3 separate regions of the Homo sapiens genome follow, and all the other regions are linked to region 3. The links come from fine-mapping of genetic effects on plasma protein levels. A gene starts in region 3. Each other region holds a variant in brackets. All regions are shown on one strand. Distances are from middle to middle. Region 1 has its middle 120 kb from the start of LINC02529. Region 2 holds the start of LOC101929142 (a long non-coding RNA gene). Region 3 holds the start of FNDC1 (fibronectin type III domain containing 1).

The links. PIP is the posterior inclusion probability: the model's chance that the variant is causal. Protein levels are from antibody-based Olink assays in UK Biobank. Linkage for the fine-mapping came from a reference panel and not from the study's own genotypes, which makes the PIPs less certain.
Region 1: its variant is fine-mapped to the plasma level of the FNDC1 protein (UK Biobank, PIP above 0.99).
Region 2: its variant is fine-mapped to the plasma level of the FNDC1 protein (UK Biobank, PIP 0.94).

What each region holds. Positions count from the first base shown.
Region 1 is chr6:159,504,958-159,511,953 of GRCh38, reverse strand. No RefSeq gene overlaps it. Among named protein-coding and RNA genes, the nearest start is that of LINC02529, 120 kb to the right of the region's middle. The variant C/TAC (reference allele first, on the strand shown) is at 4,137.
Region 2 is chr6:159,461,959-159,468,954 of GRCh38, reverse strand. LOC101929142 (a long non-coding RNA gene) reads right to left here and starts at 5,598. Exons shown (of 3, transcript XR_943178.4): 1 at 5,536-5,598; 2 at 2,444-2,608; 3 at 1,208-1,249. RefSeq lists an enhancer at 5,938-6,443. The variant G/C (reference allele first, on the strand shown) is at 3,624.
Region 3 is chr6:159,164,610-159,171,303 of GRCh38, reverse strand. It overlaps FNDC1 (fibronectin type III domain containing 1), which reads right to left and starts at 1,904. Exons shown (of 23, transcript NM_032532.3): 1 at 1,599-1,904. The coding sequence starts at 1,707. It overlaps FNDC1-AS1 (FNDC1 antisense RNA 1), which reads left to right and starts at 1,297. Exons shown (of 4, transcript NR_121668.1): 1 at 1,297-1,492; 2 at 2,543-2,771; 3 at 3,950-4,055; 4 at 5,116-5,405. RefSeq lists an enhancer at 550-1,049 and a silencer at 1,856-2,025.

The DNA.
Region 1 (6,996 bases), 340 kb before region 3:
GAGGCATTCAAACCAGAGCGACTCCATCTTGAATAGGAGCTGGATAAAATAAGGCTTAGATGTGCTGGGCTGCATTCCCAGATGGTTAAGGCATTCTAAGTCGCAGGATGAGATAGGTCAGCACAAGACACAGGTCATAAAGACTTGCTGATAAAACAGTTGTCGTAAAGAAGCCAGCTAACACCTACCGAAACCAAGACAGTGATGAAAGTGACCTCTGGTCGTCCTCACTGCTACACTCCCATCAGCACCATGACAGTTTGCAAATGCCATGGCAACATCAGGAAGTTACCCTATATGATCTAAAAAGGGGAGGCATGAATAATCCACCCTTGTTTAGCATATCATGAAGAAATAACCATAAAATGGGCAACCAGCAGCCCCTGGGACTGCTCGGCCTATGGCATAGCCATTCTTTTATTCCTTTACTTTCCTAATAAACTTGCTTTCACTTTGCTCTATGGACTTGCCCAGAATTCCTTCTTGTGCGAGATCCAGGAACCCTCTCTTGGGGTCTGGATCCGGACCACTTTCCCGTAACACCTCCAGCTCCCCAGCAGCCCTGCTCCCTTGCCTTAGAGGTAGGGTTCTTTCCACTGTGTTGTTTGAAACAGGAGCTTTCTGGAGGTGTCTTCTCCTGGGTGAAAGAATGCAGATTGTTCCTTTCTTGGTTCCTTGATGTTTCCTGAGAACACTCCCATGTCCTCAGCAGAAATCCCCCCAAAATTCAAAGAATGATTAAACCTACACCATGGAATCAGAAATCTCTTATAAATGCCAATGTGATATTTAATTAAATCTGACAGGTGGGGTCCATGAACTCATCCTCCTTTCCATCTGAAACTCCTCTTAAAAGACAGGAAACATCTATGAACTTTCAAATACAAAGAATGCCAGAGTGGAGATAGCAGTATTCAGACACATCTTCAGAAAAAGCAGCTAGCAGAGAGGTAACTGGTTTAACAGAGGAAAGGAACTTACAAAATAGTGCCCACAGAGGAGGAGCTGGGAGGAGCCAGTCAGACCCATGTCTGAGACCCCTGTCAATGACACTTAGAATATGTGAGATAACACGGGAACCATCAGCGCAGATCACTTTTGTGTTCTCAGGTAATTGTCTGGATTTAATTAATTAATTAATTAATTAATTTTTAGGGAACAAATTATCCAGCTGCCCTAGAACCTACCTTGTCTAGTTAAGAGAGTAATACCCTGCTTGCTGCACTGCTTGCATTTAGAGTTTCACGTTTCTCCCCTGCACGCTATTTAGTCTCCCCAACATGGCTTCCTGTGCAGTTTTTATCATCTGATCCTCCGGACATCATGGTGAGGTCGACAGGGAGGTGAGGAAATGGGCTCAGGAAGGTCAACCTTTCTGGCCAACCTGGCCCACAAGCCCCCTTTTTCAAATCTTTGAAGCACAAGCAATGTGGGCTTTTCTGTCCCGAGTTTCTTGCCTCTTCTGAGATGTCAGTGTAGGGGTGGGGATTTGCATTCACAGCAGGCTGAGCACTTACCACGGGGGACCCCCCCACCCCCCAGTAGGTCAGGAGTCCTAAGTGGAGGACCCAGCCAGGGAGACAGATTCATCTTCAAAGAGCCGCCCTCTGATAGAGGGGCCTCGGGGGCCACCCGGACGAGCCTTCCTCTGCAGGGTGAGCTGCCATGTTGTGGAAAGGGACTTTGGCTGCCTGAGGTTGAGTGGGCAGCCTCAGTTAGTAGCAGAACCCCGATGAGTTCTGAACCCCTGGGAAAAATCTCTTTCTAAACTCCCTTATTTCTTCATCCCAACGCCTACCTGAGGGTGGCCCTAAGGATAAAATGTCCCTTCTTGGCTGAGTGTCCTCAAAACTTTTGGACAGTGATGGCTCCCTTAATCCAACCTACCTGTCAGGCCAAGTTCTAACAACTCCTAATCACTCATCCTTCCAAAAGGGCACAGTACAAAGAATGTCATAATAAAATGACCTACGCTTATTTCTCCATACTTTGGACTTTGTAGAGATAAGTCTCCACTCATGGAGGCACTGAAAGGGAAGGGGCCTTCTTTGTTCCACTTGATTAGTGCTGAGAATTCCAGGACCAAGTGCTCATTGGAAATGATGATGTCCTTGTATTGTGGCTTCTGGCCCTATGATATGAGGATTGGCCCTTGCTCGCTCCAACTCAAAAGCAAGGGCACTTAGCTTCTCAGTCTGTTTGGGAAGAAGTTCTGGTATTAAGTCAACTGACGGAAGAAGACGGAGCTTGGATTGGTTGCTGCAAGGAGTGTCCAAAATAATGAATACAGGCAAGTGGATTTCTGCATCAAATGAGCAGCTTCTTAAACCAAGGAGCTCTGTCCTCTGCTCCCAGATCCCCAAGCATGTGTGGTATGATGTTGCAGGCCACCTAAGGGGCAGAAGTTCTTTTTTTCAGAGGCATGTAGGAGGGGTACAAGAGAATACCCCACTCCCCGACTAGCCTGGCAGTCAGATGGGAATGCACTGATGTGCATCTCTTTAAGAACATTTGAAAGGCAAACATTTTCCAAACGTATCCTTTTCCATCTTCTTGTTTGTTTAGGAAAGCAGTTGTGATAGTTAAATTGTATGTATCAACTTGGCTAGACTGTGGTGCCCAGTTGTTTGGTCAAACCCTAGTCCTTAGTCTAGGTGTTGCAGTAAAAGCATTTTTGTAGATGTGATTAACATGTATAATAAGTTGACTTTAAGCAAAGGAGATGACCCTCCACCATGTGGGTGGGCCTCATTTGATCAGTTGAAGGGCGTAAGAGCAAAAACTGAGATTTCCAGGGAAGGAGGAATTTTGGCTCAAGACTGAAACATAGGAATTCTGCCTGTGTTTCCAGCCTGCCAGACTGCCCCAGAAACTTCAGACTCAAGTTTGTGACATCAGCTCTTACCTGAGTTTCCAGCTGCTGGCCGGCCCTAAGGTTTCAGACTTGCCAGCTGCAGCAATCATGGGAGCCAATTTCCTAAAATAAATCTCTTAACATAAATATCTTATTGGTTCTGTTTCTCTGGAGAACCCAGACTGACACAGGGGCTGCGGCAGACACATACCTTCAGCAATATCTAAAGGGAGGGCTGCTCCGGGGACAGTGGACCAAAGGAAACACCCTTGTTGGCTGTAAAGTCTGAATGGGGCTGTTCTGCTTCACCAGGTTCTATGACAGAAAATGAACTCAAATCCCAGGCTTCAGGCAAAGGGTGGTAACTACAGCAGCAAACATGTCTGGCAGTGCGCAAATACGTTAAGTATATTGTCTCATGTCATTAAAAAAAAGACTTTATTTTTTAAAGCAGTTTTAGATTTACAGGAAAATTGATCGGAAAGTACACAGCTCCCATATACCAAACCCCCTGCCTCCATTTTTCCTTGAGATTAACACCCTGCATGAGTGTGCTACATTTATTGCAAACAATGAACCAAGCTTGAAAATTACTTTTAACAAAAGTCCAAGTTTATGTGAGTGTTTATTCCCTGTGTTGTATGGTTCTAGGGGTTTTGACAATGGCATTAATACAGTATCACGCAGAATACTTTTCCTGGCCTAAAACTCCCTGCTGCTCCACCTGTTCATTTCTCTCCCCTATTTATTTAATTTTCAAAACAATATTATGAGGTGAAATTTAAAAAATTCTTTAATTTATAAAATTGATACAATAATTGTATTTATGGAGTACATAGTAATGTTTTGAAACATGTATAGTGATGAAATAGAATAATTAGCATATCCATCATCTCAAACATTTATCATTTCTTTGTGTTGGGAATAGTCAAAGTCCTCTTTTCTAGCTATTTGAAGATATATAACAGGCTGGGCACGGTGGCTCATGCCTGTAATCCCAGCAGTTTGAGAGGCTGAGGTGGGTGGATCACTTGAGGCCAGGAGTTTAAGATCAACCTGGCCAACATGGCGAAACCCCATCTCTACTAAAAACACACAAAAAAATTAGCCAAGTGTGGTGGTGCACACCTGTAATCCCAGCTACTCGAGAGGCTGAGGTGGGAGAATCACTTGAACCTGGGAAGCAGAGATTGCATTGAGCCGAGATCGCGCCACTGCACTCCAGGCTGGGCAACAGAGCAAGACTCTGTCTCAAATATATGTATATGTGTATATATATATA[C/TAC]ACACACATATATACATATATACACACATATATACATATATGTATACATACACATATACGTATACATGTATACATACACATATACGTATACATGTATACATATATACGTATATGTGTATATGTATATATACACACATATATACATATATACACATATATACATATATACACATATATACATATATACGCATATATACATATATACGCATATATACACATATATGTTTTATATATATATATATAAAACAAATTATTGTTAACTATAGTCAGCCTACAGTGCTATGGAATATTAGAACTTATTCTTCCTAGCTAGCTGCAATTTTATATCATTTAACCAATCTCTCCCTAGTCCTGCCTCCCTGCTACCTTTCCCAGCCTCTAGTGTCCATTTACAGGTGAATAGATAAAGAAAATGCAGTGTGCATACATAGTGGAATACTACTCAGCCACAAAAAGTATGAGATCCTGTCATTCACAGCAAAATGGATGAACCTGGAGACATTACTTTAAGTGAAATGAGTCAGGCATAGGAAGATAAATACCACATCTTCTCACTTATATGTGGAGGCTAAAAAAGTTGATCTCATAGAAGCAGAGAGTAGAACACTTACCAGAGGTGGAACTTTATAGGCGTTGTTACAACCAAGACTCAGATTGCTCCGCTTCCCAGGTTCACACTATTCTCCTGCTTCAGCCTCCCAAGTAGCTGGGATTACAGGTGCCCACCACAATGCCCGGCTAATTTTTTCTATTTTTTAGTAGAGACAGGGTTTCACCGTGTTAGCCAGGATGGTCTCGATCTCCTGACCTCGTGATCCGCCCGCCTCAGCCTCCCAAAGTGCTGGGATTACAGGCTTGAGCCACTGCTCCCGGCCCTGGATTCACCTTTTAATAATGACAAGAAGGGGCAGGAAGATGGTTCCAAGGAAAGGCAGCACCCAGCAGTCCCTTCTTCCACTTTAAGCTCCACAGACTTCTAACTGCTGAGGTGGAAAGGAGGCATGGCTATGATTGGCAGTGCCCACAGTGCCCAGTCCTGGATGGTGGAGGCAGGGGGTGAAAGCAGGGAGCAAGAGGCAGGGCTGGGCCAGGTGGAGTGGGTGATCCTCCACTCTGAGGCCTGCAGGCCAGGGCGAACATGCCACACTGCAGCCTTTCCCGGCTCCTGGCACATTGTCCCCATTCTCCAAGGCTCCCTGTTGCCCTCACTGAAAATGAGACCTCACTTACCTGTGGATGGCTGGTTAGGAACCTGACATCCTGGAGAGCTGTTGCCTTCCTCTGGGGAGCAGAAGGCTGACTCCTCAGAGGCCTCTAGGTCCCTATTCCAACCTGAAAGAAGCCTCAGGGAGGTACACAGTCCCCTGCAGTAAACCTGACCTCAAGGGTTACACCTTCTTGGCCATCAGTTCCAGACCACACCCAGCCTGGGTCACTCTCTACCCCTTCACCAGGGCTGACCCCCAGCCCTGTCTTCCTCATTGCCCTAGAGCCTTCTGAGGAGGCCTCATATATGTGAGGTTGTGTGAACAGGAACCACCAGAGTGGCTGGGAGTTCAGTGAGGGCAGGGGTGTGTCTTCCCTGTCCCCATAATTTATACCGCAGAGTGCAGAGGCCCCTGATGACAAGATGCAGGAACTTTTAAAAGCCATCTGAGGAACTTCTAAAAAGATCCGTGCCTTCTGCTTCACCTCCCCTCCAATTGGAGGTGAGGATTCCCGAGGTGAGGGCAGGATGGCTGGGCGTCAGTATTATGAAAATGTCCCCCAGGCCCAGGGCTGGGCCCACTGCTGTGGGGGGCAGCTCAGCAGAGCTGTGCGGCTGTCCATGACATGGGAGACCCTCCCTAGGGGTGGCACAGGGAGGTTGTCTTGGGGAGAGGACAGGCACCCTGATATTTGAACTGGGACCTTCCCTTCTCCTTTCTTTCCCTGCCTCATGCGGTGGAGGGCAGGGACCCAGCCTGGAGGGTTTGGGGATGAGGTCATGGTCAAGGAGAGCTCTGGGCGCTGGGCTCGGGCTGCCTGGCCAGACTCAGGTGGGTGGGGCAGGAGCTGGAGTTGGCCTAGTTGTTCCAGGAGAGTCTGTTTTTCTAAAGGAAAAAGAATCATGCTAACGAGCCTGGCGCCCTCCTGAACGTCTCTAACAGGCCCCGTTCTGACTGGGAACTCTGGCTGTGCGCCCTCTGCTTCAGCCTAGGGCCAAGGAGGTCCCCTAAGAGAGGACTCTAGGCAGCTCAGCCTGCCTCATCAACCCAGGCAGGGCTCAGGGGTTGCCTTGGCGGCACTTCCCGAAGCAGACCCCATCCCGCCGTCATCCTGCACCTTCACTCATCCCGGGTCTCCTGCCACCTGCGTCATGGCACAGGGAGGCGGTTGCCCTTTGTTACAGGATGAAAGCTTCGAAGTCTCCACTCATTTGCTCACCTCGCTTCTCATTTGCAGAGCTCTGAGCTTGGCTGGGGTAGAGCACACCCAGGCTCTGACACAGTGGGAAACAAGCTTGGTGTTCAGTTTTGGCTGTGACACTGTCTTCCAGAGAATAATCCGGGCTACGAATTCTCTGGCAGGAACATGAAGTCCATCTGGCTGAGGGGTCTTTGCCCTGACACTCTCAGATGTGGTGCCCTGGTGTTCTGTTCCCATTGCTCAAAGCTGGACCCTGCAGCTTCCAGCCAAGGGCACCAGCATAAACCATTGTGTGTGGGTTCCACGTGGGGGCTTTCAGCCGGGGCTGTTTTGCTCAGGAGGCGATGTCTGCCTAGGTCTGGAGTCCAACAAGGCAAGCTCACTGAGGGCCCAGGGAAATTCCTGGGCAAAAACTCCTCTTAGGGAAAGAGAGATGAGGGGAAACAGCCTG
Region 2 (6,996 bases), 300 kb before region 3:
AGAAGACATTCTTCCTTTTGGTCCTCTGACTCCGAATGCAACCTCATTCATTCATTCATTCATTCATTTGGTCAGTATTTGGAGTGCTGTTGATAGGGGTGGGGTCATATAGCCCTCACATCTAGGTAAGTAGCCCCAACACAGCAATAGGTGAAATTTAAAAAAACACAACCTGATTAAATTCCAAAGTGGAAAGTCTATACCAGTGTTTTTTAAACTAATTCCCCATGAAAATCACTCGGGAAACTTTTAAAAAATACACATTCCCAAGGTTCAGGCCAGAATCAGAATCTCTAATTTTTAGCTTTAAAAAAATGTTACAAACTTCGCAGGAAATTTTTATGTAGCTTGCCCAGTACTGCACTGTGAATTGGTGTTCAGAAAATATGGTAGATGAGAGACCACCTCTGTGAAGTTGAGGATGTAGTGATATCTGACTAGCGGAGTTGTCATGCTCACCTAGCATGCTAATGAGGACAGTGTCAGAGGAGAGAGCTGGCCCTAGGCACCAGACAGACACAGAGAGCCATTTACTTACTCTTGCAGATTCCAAAAGTCAAGACTCAAAAATCGCACTTCTTCTCTCAATGCCTGGAAGTGATGATTGAGACCTGTTGTACTTTTATTTGGTGCTAGGGGCTACTGTGGAACTTCAGTCTCCATACTTGCCTGTTAAAGTTCCTTCTGTTTTCCTTTTTACCCAAATTCACTTGTGTAGGGCAATGATACTACAAGAGCAGTGCTCTAACCCCTGAGCTATGGAGCCCCTGCCTGGGCAATGATATAAAAGACTGGCCTCAAAGCTGTGGCAGACTCTCGAAAATTATTGGAAAATAACTCAATAATAACAACACAGTCCTACTTCAAACCCTGTGTTCCCTAAGAGTGCTTTATTCCCTCAAAGTATTTTCAAAGTATCTGTCATTGCTTTGGGGTAGGCTTTTATCACTAGCATCTTCATAGCTGACACTTCATTTCTGGCCTTTTGGCTTTTTTGTATGTTTAGTCATACATGCAGGTCATACCACCATAGCAACTCACTCAAAATAACTCACTTAGGGTGACTGCACAGAGAGTCTCTCTCAGCTATTTTAGTAATAACACAATAGCAACCCACGTTAGTGCAGCTGGGCTCCTTAAATATTCCTTCCTAAGTCATGTAGTACACATTTTAGAAGCCACATTAAAGTACCAAAATTACCCACAAACCGTTTATTGCTACAGTTCACTCCCGTATTTTCTTCTCAACCTGTGGGTAAAGAAAGACATAGATAAATTCATCTGATGCTTTAAAGTGGCAGAGCTATAAATATCTGATTTTTCTCTGTGTTTTGAAAAATTGAATAGTCATAGAAAATTCTTATAACAGTATTTACATAAGTGAGCACTTCCTCTTTCCTTTCTTCCCCCTCGCTCTCCGTATCCTTCCTCCTTCCTCCCCTCCCCCTTTCCTTCCTTCCTTTTTTCCTTCCTTCTTTCCTCTCTTTCTTTACTAAATATCCATATTATGCTAGGTATTGTTTTAGATTCCAAGCCAGACACAAAGGTAAACAAAATATAGTCATTGCTCTCAAATGTCTCACAGCCTTCTGAATCTTTTGAAGAGGAAAACCTGAGAATTATATAAAATTGTTTCATTAACATAAGAGAATCTGAAGATGGCACAGAATGTTTTGGGGGATGCTTCCTTGATTCCTAGTTCCTTTCTCTGTAGATTCTTCCTGTTCAAGGCACAGGCGTAGACAGTCATGAGATGCCTGGGTCAGAAACATAAGACTTTAATACTCACAGCAATAGCAGTAGGCAGAGTATCAGCAGTTGTTCATATCTGTCCTGAGCCCCAATTTCCATAGGGCGTGTGAAGAAGGCCAGATGACACTTATTCACATAGTGACTTGCATTATAGGAGGAGATCCCTGAGCTCAGAGAACCCAAATCTTTCATGATGGGCAGTAAGTTTGCCTGCCCTTTTCTCCAACAGCAGGTATTAATTCTGTTTTTCAAGGCTGGTCACTATACATGGAGAATTCTTTCCCAATCCTCTTGCCTCTTACCTTTCTTTTTGTTTGTTTGTTTCTTTCTTTCTTTCTTTTTCTTTCTTTCCTTCTTTCTTTCTTTCTTCCTTCCTTTCTTTCTTTCTTTTTTTTTTTTTTTTTTTTTGAGACGGAGTCTCACTGTTGCCCAGGCTGTAGTGTAGTGGCGTGATCTTAGCTCACTGCAATCTCTGCCTCCCAGTTCAAGTGATTCCCCTGCCTCAGCCTCCCGAGTAGCTGGGACTACAGGCGCACACCACCACTCCCAGCTAATTTTTTTTGTGTTTTAGTAGAGATGGGGTTTCACCATGTAGGCCAGGATGGTCTCCATCTCCTGACCTCGTGATCCACCTGCCTCGGCCTCCCAAAGTGCTGGGATTACAGGCATGAGACACCACACCCAGCCTCACCTTTCTGTAAGTCCAAATAAAAATAAAAGCAGCTGGCAAATCTAAAGTGAGATATAAGTGGATTTCTCCTCCAGGTTCAGGATCCAGATGTTGTCTCTGCCAGGTGTCCTTTCCCACCTTGCCTTCTGTTCTCCTCTCCCCTCCTCTCCAGCTCCATATCATGCTCTGCCAAAGAATGCAAGCCTTCACGTGAGCTGAATCCATCCTGGGCAATACTATTAGGCCCATTCTAAAGCCGGGGTTGGTAAACTATGTCACAAGCTACATCTAGCAGAAATGATTTTTTAAAATTTAATGGTTGTAAGAAAAGAAGAAGAAGAAGAAGCCGGGCACAGTGGCTCACGCTTGTATTCCCAGCATTTTGGGAGGCCAAGGCGGGCAGATTATTTGTGGTCAGGAGTTCAAGACCACCCTGGCCAACAAGGTGAAACACAGTCTCCACTAAAAATACAAAACTTAGCAGGGTGTGGTGGTGTGTACCTGTAATCCCAGCTACTCAGGAGGCTGAGGCAGGAGAATCACTTGAACCCAGGAGGCAGAGGTTGCAGTGAGCCGAGATCATGCCACTGCACTCCAGCCTGGGTGACAGAGCAAGACTCTGCCAAAAAAAAAAAAAAGGCCAGGCACGGTGGCTGGCTCACACCTGTAATTCCAGCACTTTGGGTGGCCGAGGCGGGCGGATCACGAAGTCAGGAGATTGAGCCATCCTGACTAAGATGGTGAAACCCCGTCTCTACTAAAAATACAAAAAAAAAAAAAAATTAGCCAGGCATGGTGACGGGTGCCTGTAGTCCCAGCTACCCGGGAGGCTGAGGCAGGAAAATAGCGTGAACCCACGAGGTGGAGCTTGCAGTGAGCGGAGATCGCACCACTGCACTCCAACCTGGGCGACAGAGTGAGACTCTGTCTCAAAAAAAAAAAAAGGGAAGAAAACAGAGACACAGAGACAGTCCACAAAGCCTAAAATATTTACTATTTCTCTCTTTCTAAGGAAAGGTTTGCTGAGTCCCATTCTAGAAGTAACTGAGTATAGGGGGAAGTCAATTATAAAAAAAAAAATGGCAGCTACAGCATCCCCAGAATGGATGAGGTGCTGGAGCACTAGGTGAACATGTTACCTTTCTATTTTTTGAGAAGTGCTGTTTCCTTTCCTGACAGAAAGCTGGGATGACCTTCCTCA[G/C]GTCTTAGAAGATGCAGAGCTCTCATATTATAAAATGGTACACACTGTCTCTGTCTCTCTGTATCTAAACACACATATTATATATCTAATTTAATTTACAATAACCTATACCTTATATCTATATATTATTGTGAATTAAATTAGAAAAAGTGAATAAGGGAATGAGAATTACAGATCCAATTATAATATGTGATTTACATACATATGGAGCCTGGACTCGTCTTCCTCTCCCAGTCAAGTGTAGCTATGGCGTCAATTAAGATTTAGATGATGTTCTCAGGTCTGGGGAATGAATTGCTGAGTGCCAGGAAAATAATGCTCAAGTGTCTGTGCACGCACGGAGCTAGCTGGACGCCGCTCCGACAGATTTCCTTTGCGTATCGAGCATCTGAGCTCTGCAGAAGTCTCTTCTTAAAGTCATCCTGAAGCCCCTCAGTCCTCAGATTGCTGCAGTATCTTATTGTTTTTAAGCCCCTCTGTTAACTTAAAGATTAAATATTTTTGCTCACACTCTCTAAGTGTCTGAAAATGCTCAAAATATTGAAAGATGGAGAAATATACTTGAGAATCTTTTTATTTACTTTAAAATGAGTGTGGGATACTTTCTCCTTCCAGTCTCTCTGGGACTGACTCCAGCTCTAACCTGGGCTTGCAGTGTGGCCAGCAGTTCAGTAATGTCCAACTTGACCTAAGTCTGATTTTTACTAAATCAAGAACTCTACTAAAAGATGTAAAAATGTGAATGATTGTTGTTTGCCACCTTGAAGGAAAATAGCAGTGTTAAATTAGAACATTCTCTCATCTTAGAGATGTTACTAACAGGTGACATTTGGATGCTGTTTCAGAGGAATGGGATTATACTGAATATTTTTCTAATATTTCTTTCGTTGTCACAAGGTGAGAAACAACTGGCACTGTTCTAAGGGCTTAATATGCATTAATTTAATTCTCACATCTCATGAAGCAGGTGCTGTTGTGAGCCCCATTTGACAGAGGAGGAAACTGAGGCACAGATTGGTAAATGGAAGAGCCCAATTTCAAAGCCTGATGATTTCGTTTCAGAGCTTGGACCCTTTCCTGGCTGACACCAGACATTCCTAGAACCCCTAATTATGTGCTAGAAGAGTGATTCTCCATCCTAACTGTAAATAATTTGTAGTTATATGTAAAAGTGGAGTTGGGTTCCAGGCTCAGAAAATTATAAACAAGTTTGTCACCTGCATAACTGTCTGGTGGGACATTGAAAAGTTCCACAAGATCGTCTTCTGCATTGTGGGCCCTCTAGTATTCCAGGCCTCCACCCACTAAATGAGGTCACACCCCATCTTCATGACTATCAATAAAGTAAAACAGGGCCAGGCGCGGTGGCTCACGCCTGTAATCCCAGCACTTTGGGAGGCCCAAGTGGGTGGATCACGAGGTCAGGAGTTCGAGACCAGCCTGGCCAACATGGTGAAGCCCTGTCTCTACTAAAAATACAAAAAGTAGCCAGGCGTGGTGGTGGAAGCCTGTAATGCCAGCTACTCGGGAGACTGAGGCAGGAGAATCACTTGAAACCGTAAGGCGGAGGTTGCAGTGAGTCGAGATCGTGCCACTGCACTCCAGCCTGGGCGAAAGAGCAAAACTCCCTCTCAAATAAATACATAAATAAAGTAAAATAAAGCCCCTACACATTTCCAAAATGCTCTCTAGGGGGCAGTAATCCCTCCATTAAGAACTATTGGTTAGCTTTTTGATGGTGACATTAAAGCGTCATTTCTCTAGGTTAAATCAACCTGGATAAGAGTTCTAGCCACAGGCACATGTCTGTGTTTCTACATGAGCATGAAGAAGCGAGTGCACTGTGGAGAGGATATGAATAATATCTCCCTCCCTTCCCAACTAAGGGAAGCCGGCCCACGCCTGCACTCACATGAGACTGTTCCCCACGATGGCACAGTAAGAGGAGACTTGAGAGAGCGCCCTGCTGTTTTGGTCGTGTGTGATGTTAGTGACTGCGTCATAAGAACCAAAGCTGATGCTTGATTGGAGTGTGCTAGAATCCAATCACTTAGAAGTGGGTCCGCCAGCAAATATGCAAGATTGATTTTTGGAAGCGATGCTGGAAACTGTGGCTGGCGAAGGTAGACGGAGCTTTGCTTTCCAATATCTGCAAGGGGCCGACTTCTCCGTAGCCTGTGTATGTCGGGGCACTCTCAGGCTTTCATATCGAGCCAGATGTTCCCACTTCCTTTTGATTCTCTTGCTGATGGAGAAAATTGCCGCTCTGGGGGATGAAATACTTCCCAATGACTTGGAAATTGTGATGGTAACTTGTAGTTGATGAATCATGAGTTGTTACCACAGGCCCCACAAAGACCCGCAATGCACACCAAAGACGGGCACCAAAACCACCCCAGTGGTATGGAGAGAAGCACGTGGTTCTCTCATTTTGAACACTCTGTGTTTTAAAGATATCAGTAATGTCTCCCTCCCTTCCCAAATTATTTTCTCCCAGGGAAGCTCCACGTTATGACATCTTCACAGATGCAGTCAACTGTTTTCTTTAAATGTCATTGGCCACCGAGGAGAGGTAGGCCCTAAGTCTTGTGGCCCCAACCCACCCTGCTGAGAGGTTGGTATGTGGCTCCTGTTTTGGGAAAGAGGAGGTAGGCGGTTACGTGACTCCCCCACTTCCTCCAGCTCTCTTGGCAAGGCTATTGGCAGATTGGAGCTTGCCCCGCTCTGGACTCAGAAGTTCTCATTTGCTACATTAGGCTGCTTCATCTGGCTCCAATGGGAGGATTCTTGGAAAGTTCTAAACTGGGTTACAGCCGCATTTTAGGCTGCCATTAATTGATTGTTCAGAGCTAAAATTAGAAAAAATACATTATAACGACTTTTACCATGTCAGAACCACCAATATTTAAAAATATTTCACGAATGTAATTGCTGGTGTGAAATATACTTGTTTAACCATCCCACCACTAAAGGAAAATCTTGGACTGAAATTCTTCATTTCAGGAAACAAATTATAAATTTCAACAGATAGTGGTTTGCCTCACTGAAGAGACACAGGCTTCAGGACCCAATAGGCTGGTTTTAGGATCTTGGTCCCTCTATTTACCAGCGGAGGGCCCCAATAACTTACTACCTCTCTGAGTCTCAGGTTTCACATCTGCAAAGTGTGGTTAAAAATATCTGCTTTGCAAAATAGTGTTTTGCACAAGGCTAACTGATAGAGAGAGAGAGAGAGAGTTAAAGACCAAACTGATAATTTTGTCAACAGCATGGAATAGCAATTGGGAAATTAATTTATTATGTCCTCTGTGTGGTTAACCAAACTAAATGTTTATTTAGCTAGGGTATTGTGTCTTGATAACAGCACCCCCAC
Region 3 (6,694 bases):
TTCTGAAATGTGCCTGTCCTCCTTTGTCCACCTCTAGTCTGGTCATCATTTGACTGTAGATCCCACGTCAACACAGTAGAGAGAAGGGCTGGGAAGCTGTCCAGCCCCAGCATTCCTCAGCACAGTGATTCACAGAGCAGAAGGCGAAAAAGCAAGAGTGCAGATCGCGGTGGGATTCCAGGAGCTCTCACAAACAACCCCGCTCGGACCCACTCACATGCAACCCACGGGCAGGTGGCAGAGGAATCGGAAAAGCAGAAGGCTGGAATCGCCACAAAGCCAGGGCAGCACTGGTTCCAGTTTCAGATCATTTTCAGAAACAAAAACTCTTCCAGCACTCTGAAAATTTTCACTTAGAAAAACAAAAGCCAGGAGTTGTAGGTGGGGAAGTTGGAAGACTTTATTTAGTTTTATTCCTCTCAAGTACTGTGCAAAGTATTCAGTGAATACTTTCCTAGAGTTCACTAATGGGAAGAAAAAGACCCTACGGCAGGCACTGCCTTTTATGAGAAAGTGGCATTGGCATCAGAATACCTCGCATAAACCTGAGCCAAGCATTGGGATGATGTATCTACCAAAAAGTCACAAAGTAATGTGATCCCCAACTTTTCTTCCTTTACCCCTGAAGTAAGAGAACAATATATACACTAAATAGCATCATAAAACTGGTACCCTCGTTGGAATAGTATCTGACGATCATTGTCTGCTTCTTGGATTTCTACAAACCAATAACCTAAAAGCCAGTTTCAAGTGTAAAAATGCCTGCAAAGGAGGTGGTAACAAGGGCCGCCAAAGGCTTAGGAATGAAAACCTCGCCACAAACTTGTCTCTCTCTGCAGGAAGCTTGCAAGAAATCTGACAGGAGCGCGCTAGCATTTTCTGAAAAGCATTGCTCTCAAAGGAAGCATCCATCCTGGCTGCAGCCTCAGCCATTGGGGAAGGGCGAGTTTCTCTGGAATCAGCTTTCTCATTTCCCTCTCCCTCCTCTCAAGACAAACATTTTCTCCCAGCTTGAACGTTCCCCCCGGGCGCGCGGGCCTCCTGCCGCCTGGAGCCGAGCTGGCACTGGAGCGCTTCTCCTCTGGAGCGCAGAGGCACCCGACGCCCTGCGGCAGCTCGCAGCCTTTCCCCCACGACCTTCTAGAACAGCCCTGCTCTGCCTCCCTCCGGTCTCCCGAGTGCGCCCGTCATCCTGCCTCGCGAGAGGTGAACGCGGAGAAAGTAGGATGACCACCTACGCTCCCGAGAAATTCTGGGCAAAGAAAGGCATTACCCCAGTCCGCACGCTGAAAGTCGCCTTTCTTTTCCTTTTTTCCCCGCTGTGCCTGAATCTCCCGGGACACTTAGACGGCTGGAGCCTCCCGACTCCAAGGCGGGCGACGGCAAAGTTAAACGCCAGCGCGCTGCGGTCCCCGGGCACCGAGGCGTCCCCGCTCCCGCCACCCACACAGGGCGCCAAGTGCCCCGACCCGCGAGTGACGAGGACGCACAGGCTAGTGACACGACCCGTAGCCAGCACTGAGCGGGACGACGGGGCCCGAGCGCAGGAGGGTGCGCGGGGAGCTGAGGAGCGCCGGGGGCCCGGGCGCGGCGCGTACCTGAGGCCGCCGCCGAGGAGGCGACGGGGAGCAGCGCGGCCAAGAGCAGCAGCGCCGCCCAGGACAGCCGGCGCGGCGCGCGCAGGGTCGCCCCGGCCTCGGGGGCCATCGAGAGCCCGGGGTGGGCCGGGGCTGGGTGCTTGCGGCTGGCAGGGGGGCGCTGGCCGGAGTCTGGGGAGTGCCGAGGCGCCGCCGTCGGGTCCCCGCCGCCGTCCGTCTGTTCTGCGCGCTCTGCGCGGTGCCCGCCGCGCCCCTGCCCCGCGGCGATCGCTCCCGGCCGCACACCGGCAGCCGCGCTCCGCCACTGAGGCCGCCGACCTCCCGCCGAGCCTTTTAGCTGCGCTCGGGCGCCCCCTGCCGGTGTGCGGGGCCGGGGCCAGGGCCGGCGGGGGCGACCCGGGCGACAGGGGCGACGGGGGCGGCGGGGCCCGGGCTGGAGGCGGGCGGGGCGCGGGACGAAGGGGCCGGAGCGCCCCGGACTGACTTAGCGGTTCTGAACTTGGGGCGGTCGCTGTGCCGGGCCAAGTGGCTGAGGAAGTTCCTCCCCTCGTCTAACCCTCTCATTTTCTGGCTGGGGAAGTCGCCCATCGCGCCGAGGAGTGCCCTTTGTCCCCTTACAGAAACACCTCTGCGCCCCAAGTGGGGACTCGGGCCGGGACCCCTCACCCGGTCCGCAGCGCTGTAGTTCCTGTGGCTAGCCCAGTCCTTCCACGTCCCTACCCGCACCCGGCGCGCCCACGTCAGGGGTTTTCAGCGTCCTTAGACCCTGCTCCGTCTGGCTGTCATTTCTAGGGCGCGCACGATGCGGGTCGAAAAGGAACCCAGTTTTCAGTGTGCCTTGTTGCCCAGGCCAAGGACTCAGCGGACCTCGCCTCTCCCTTTTCTGTAATTGTAACACTGCCCCAGGTCTCCCTATTCCTCCTTCTCCCTATTCCTCCTTCCAGCCTGGAAGCCTCGCGGCCCTCCAGATGGACTCGGAGCGCCCCTGGAGGCTACAGTGACCTAAGCTCTAGGAAGGCCGGGTCCTGGACGCCGCGTGCTGCTGTCCGCCGCCGACCGGTGTCCTCGCAGAGATAACCTGGCTGAACTCACCGCCCAGCGCTATGTCAGTTCTCCCTCATGACAACCCAAAACTTGACCGGATTTGTGTTCTGCAGAGAGGAAAAAAAAAAGGTAAATGAATTGCAAAGAGATGAAAACCAGAAATACAGTATCTCTTTGAATTTGAGCACCCAGGAAAGGTGTAAACCTACCGCCTTCCTTTCCAGGAAACTCTCCTGCTTCCCAGCAAAGGTTTTTGTTTGTTTGTTTTTCTTTTTCTTTTTGTTTTGAGACAGGGTCTCCCTCTGCCTCTGCCGCCCAGGCTGGAGTGCAGTGGTGCAGTCTTGGCTCACTGCAACCACCATATCCCAGGCTCAAGCCATTCTCCTGCCTCAGCCTCCTAAGTGGCTGGGACTACAGGTTTCAGCCACCATGCCCAGCTCATTTTTGTATGTTTTGTAGAGACAGGGTTTCCCCACGTTGCCCAGGCTGGTCTCCAACTCCTGAGCTCAAGCAATCCGCCCACCTTGGCCTCCCAAAGTGCTGGGATTACAGGCGTGAGCCACCACGCCCAGCCCAAACACACTTTCCTGCATTACTCCCTTATGTTATCATGTTTCCCCACATGCCATTTAATGGAGCTGTGTGGTTTCTGTCTCACCAGCAGCCACCCGGCTCTGCCTATTTTGGGGGAATGGTAGCTCCCTCCCCAACTCCAACCAAGTGACAGGCCCCCTCCTTACTCCCACTCCTTCCCAAAGCCCCACTTCCCCACTGGCTCAGGGCTCTGCAGTGGCCTAGACAGGGTCACTCAGAGTTGGGACTCTTCTAACACGGGCTGGTGGAAAGGTCTCTTTCTCCCATCATTCGTGGATTTGGAAGGATGGTAGCCATGGCAGGCTGAAACACAGCCTTCCTCCCCAAAAAGACATTCCTGTCCTAGTCCCTGACCCTGTGAATGTCACCTTACATGGTTTATTAAAAAGCAATTAAGCATGCTGAGACAGAGAGATTATCGTGGATTATCTGGGTGGGCCCTAATGCAGTCATGTATGTAACTTATAAAACAGAGGAGAGGGAGATTGACGCACACAAGAGAAATCCAGGTGAGGACGGAGGCAGCCATGGGAACGATGCACCCACAGCCCAGGGATGCTGGCAGCCCTCACCAGAGGCTGGAAGAGGCTCCTCCAGAGCCTGTGCTGGACTTCAGGCCAGTGGAACTGATTTCAGACTTCTGGCCTCCAAGACTGAGAGAGCAGATTTCTGTTGTTTAAGCCACCCACCCCGTTTGTAATTACTTCTTACAGCGGCCACCGAACACCAGTGCAGTAGCCAGGATGGGCCTGTGGCTCTGGCTGCAGCCTCCAGGGACACCAGCTGGAGAGAAGGAAGCCACGCATGGAGAGCGGCCAGGTGGGTAGAAAAGAGCCGGGCAGATGCAAGAGTCCCGGGCTCCACCTCACCCCTGCGCTTTCTGAACGCTGGTTCTGGGGACAGCACATTCCCTTTTGCTAACTTGGAATGAGATTTCTATTTTCTATAACCAATGAGTCTTGACTAGTGCACTCCCCCCTGTTCTTAAGAGGACAAGAACCAAGACTTATCTTTATTGCTCATCTGTCACCCAAAAGAGGCCATCACAGAACCAAACACAGTAATATCCAGGAAATGCTGAGGTTAATTGCCATTCATTCATTCATTCAGCAAATACTTATTGTGATCTACTCTGTCCCCAGCACTGCTGTAGACCCCGGGGATTAGCAGTGACTGAAAGCAGATGAATAGCAGGAGTTAAGTTAAAAGCAGAGAAGGGGAGGCAGCACTGAGGACTTTACAGGCTGCAGGAAGGGTTTAGGCTTTCAATCTGAGAGGTGAAGGGCAACACTGGAGAATTCTGATCAGAGGAGACACGGGTAAGCAGGCTCTTACAATCCCAGTGAGGCAAGACGGTGCTTGGACATGATGGACAGCAGTGGGGCACGAGAACCAGTGAGGTTCTGGATGCATCTTAAAGGTATGGTTTGGGAGATTTTCTGACTCATTGGATGTGGAGAAAAAGAGGATTTGCAATATACCGAGTCACACTATTCTCATGCTGCTGGTTAACTCTCCATTGTGACTTCTGTAATTTCAGGATGTCACTCTTTAGTTTCATTGTAATGAACTAATCATATGCCATAATCTCTATATGCACACAGTGAAAGCTCAACAGACATCAGTTTCCTTCCCTGCATCCTCAGGAGATGCATGTGCACTTACCTTCCTCCCCAGAATACTTATTAGAGCAACTTTCTTAGGGGTACATTTCAGAGTGAAGCACAATGCAAAATTACTTCCAATTTTAGAGTTTCAGAACCCTCAACCATGGGCTGTTTGATATTAAATGAAATTACTGACACTTATGAGTTCTGATTCTGATTTCATTACAAATATGAGAGTGTGTGTTTTAATCAAAAGGTATTATTACCTTTAGGCTCAAAATATCTTAAAGAAAATGGAACTCGGAGTCAGTCATCTGTTCTCAACGTGGTCATCTCAAAAATATGAGCACACGGAAGTTTTCTTCCTTCTTGTCAGTTTTGAGTCCAATATCAATACTGTTGTCCTGTGAAAGATTTTAAGATTTAAATGTTTTTTCATGTAATTTCCTGATGTCTTGATTGTTGCTTCTATTTTGTTCATCAAAACCAAACAGAGTGGAGGTTGCTCTGGGGCTGGATGGATGGCCAGTCATTAAAATCAATGCCTTATTAGTCTGCCTTAGTTCTGTGGTCTTTTCTGGCTTTACAGATCAGCTTGTGTTCATATACACTATTTCCTGTTCTAGTTATTTTTAAAATAACTATACATCCAAGGAGTTCAGCACTCCTCATACACATTGTCGTGGCATTCCTATGTGATAGGGTAAATTAAATTGCTATTCTCGTGTTTCATATGGATAAATGGGAAGCAAGTTCAAATGACCTTCCAGTACAGACTCAAGTAGAGCGTTGAAAGTGCGTGTCTCATATTATTCATCTGACATTTAATCTTGTTCAGTCTTCAATTTGGCTCATGTGGCTCTTTAATTCCTTTTTAAGCACCACATTTGAATATATCTGCATATTGTGATCGCCGCAGGACACTACACAATACCCATTACACAATAGTGATATTTTTAAAAGACTACATAGAAGGAGAACAAAAGAGAGTGTGCTCCTACAGCACTTGCTGTGATTGTGGGGAGCTCAATAAATCGGACACAGCAGATCTGGAGGAACACAACAGTCCCCAGGATTCTATGAACAGAGGGAAAAGGGAAAAGAAAATAGAAGCAGGCAAGTCGACACTGCCATCTCAGTTTCGCCTTGACCTGGGAGAAGGGTGATAGAAATAGCTTCTAGCTGGCAATAAAATAAAATAATAAAATAATGCTTTACTTCTTTTCTTGAACAGTACTCATTTCGTTCCGATTCTCACAACAACTTTAGGGGCACTATTCTGATTTTACAGGAGAAAATCAAGGCTCCAAGAAGGCGTGTGGCATGTGCTTGGCCCTTTAACTGGTGCGCCTGGGAGTCCAGTCTGAGCCTCTGACCCCAAGTACACATCTCTCTCCACCACACGTGACTCTCAGAAGGTCCTTCCCTCTCTCCCATTTTCATTAAAACTATGAGGATCAGGGGAGACAGGACAAATAAAAGTCTGTTTTGCACACGCCATGTCCCCGTGTCCACTGCAGATTTATCGGAGACACTTCCTTATCATCCAGATAGTGACCAATCCCTCTTAGCAAACAACTACATGAGACCTCAATGTTATATCACTCATGTTCTTAGAGTTTCAAAGATGCAGACAAGAAATGGTGCTTCTTAAAAAACACCCTGCCATGAATCTATCATTGCCCAAAACACACTTCCTCTGCACAGAAGTTCTAACATGTTTCCACTGCAAGGCAGTGCCAAGGCAATTCTCTTCTATTGTACAAATCTACTGGGAATTAGTGAAACATAAAGGATTAAGGTGTCAGACACCAGCCTCACATATGCATGGTTGGCATGATTAAATTAAAA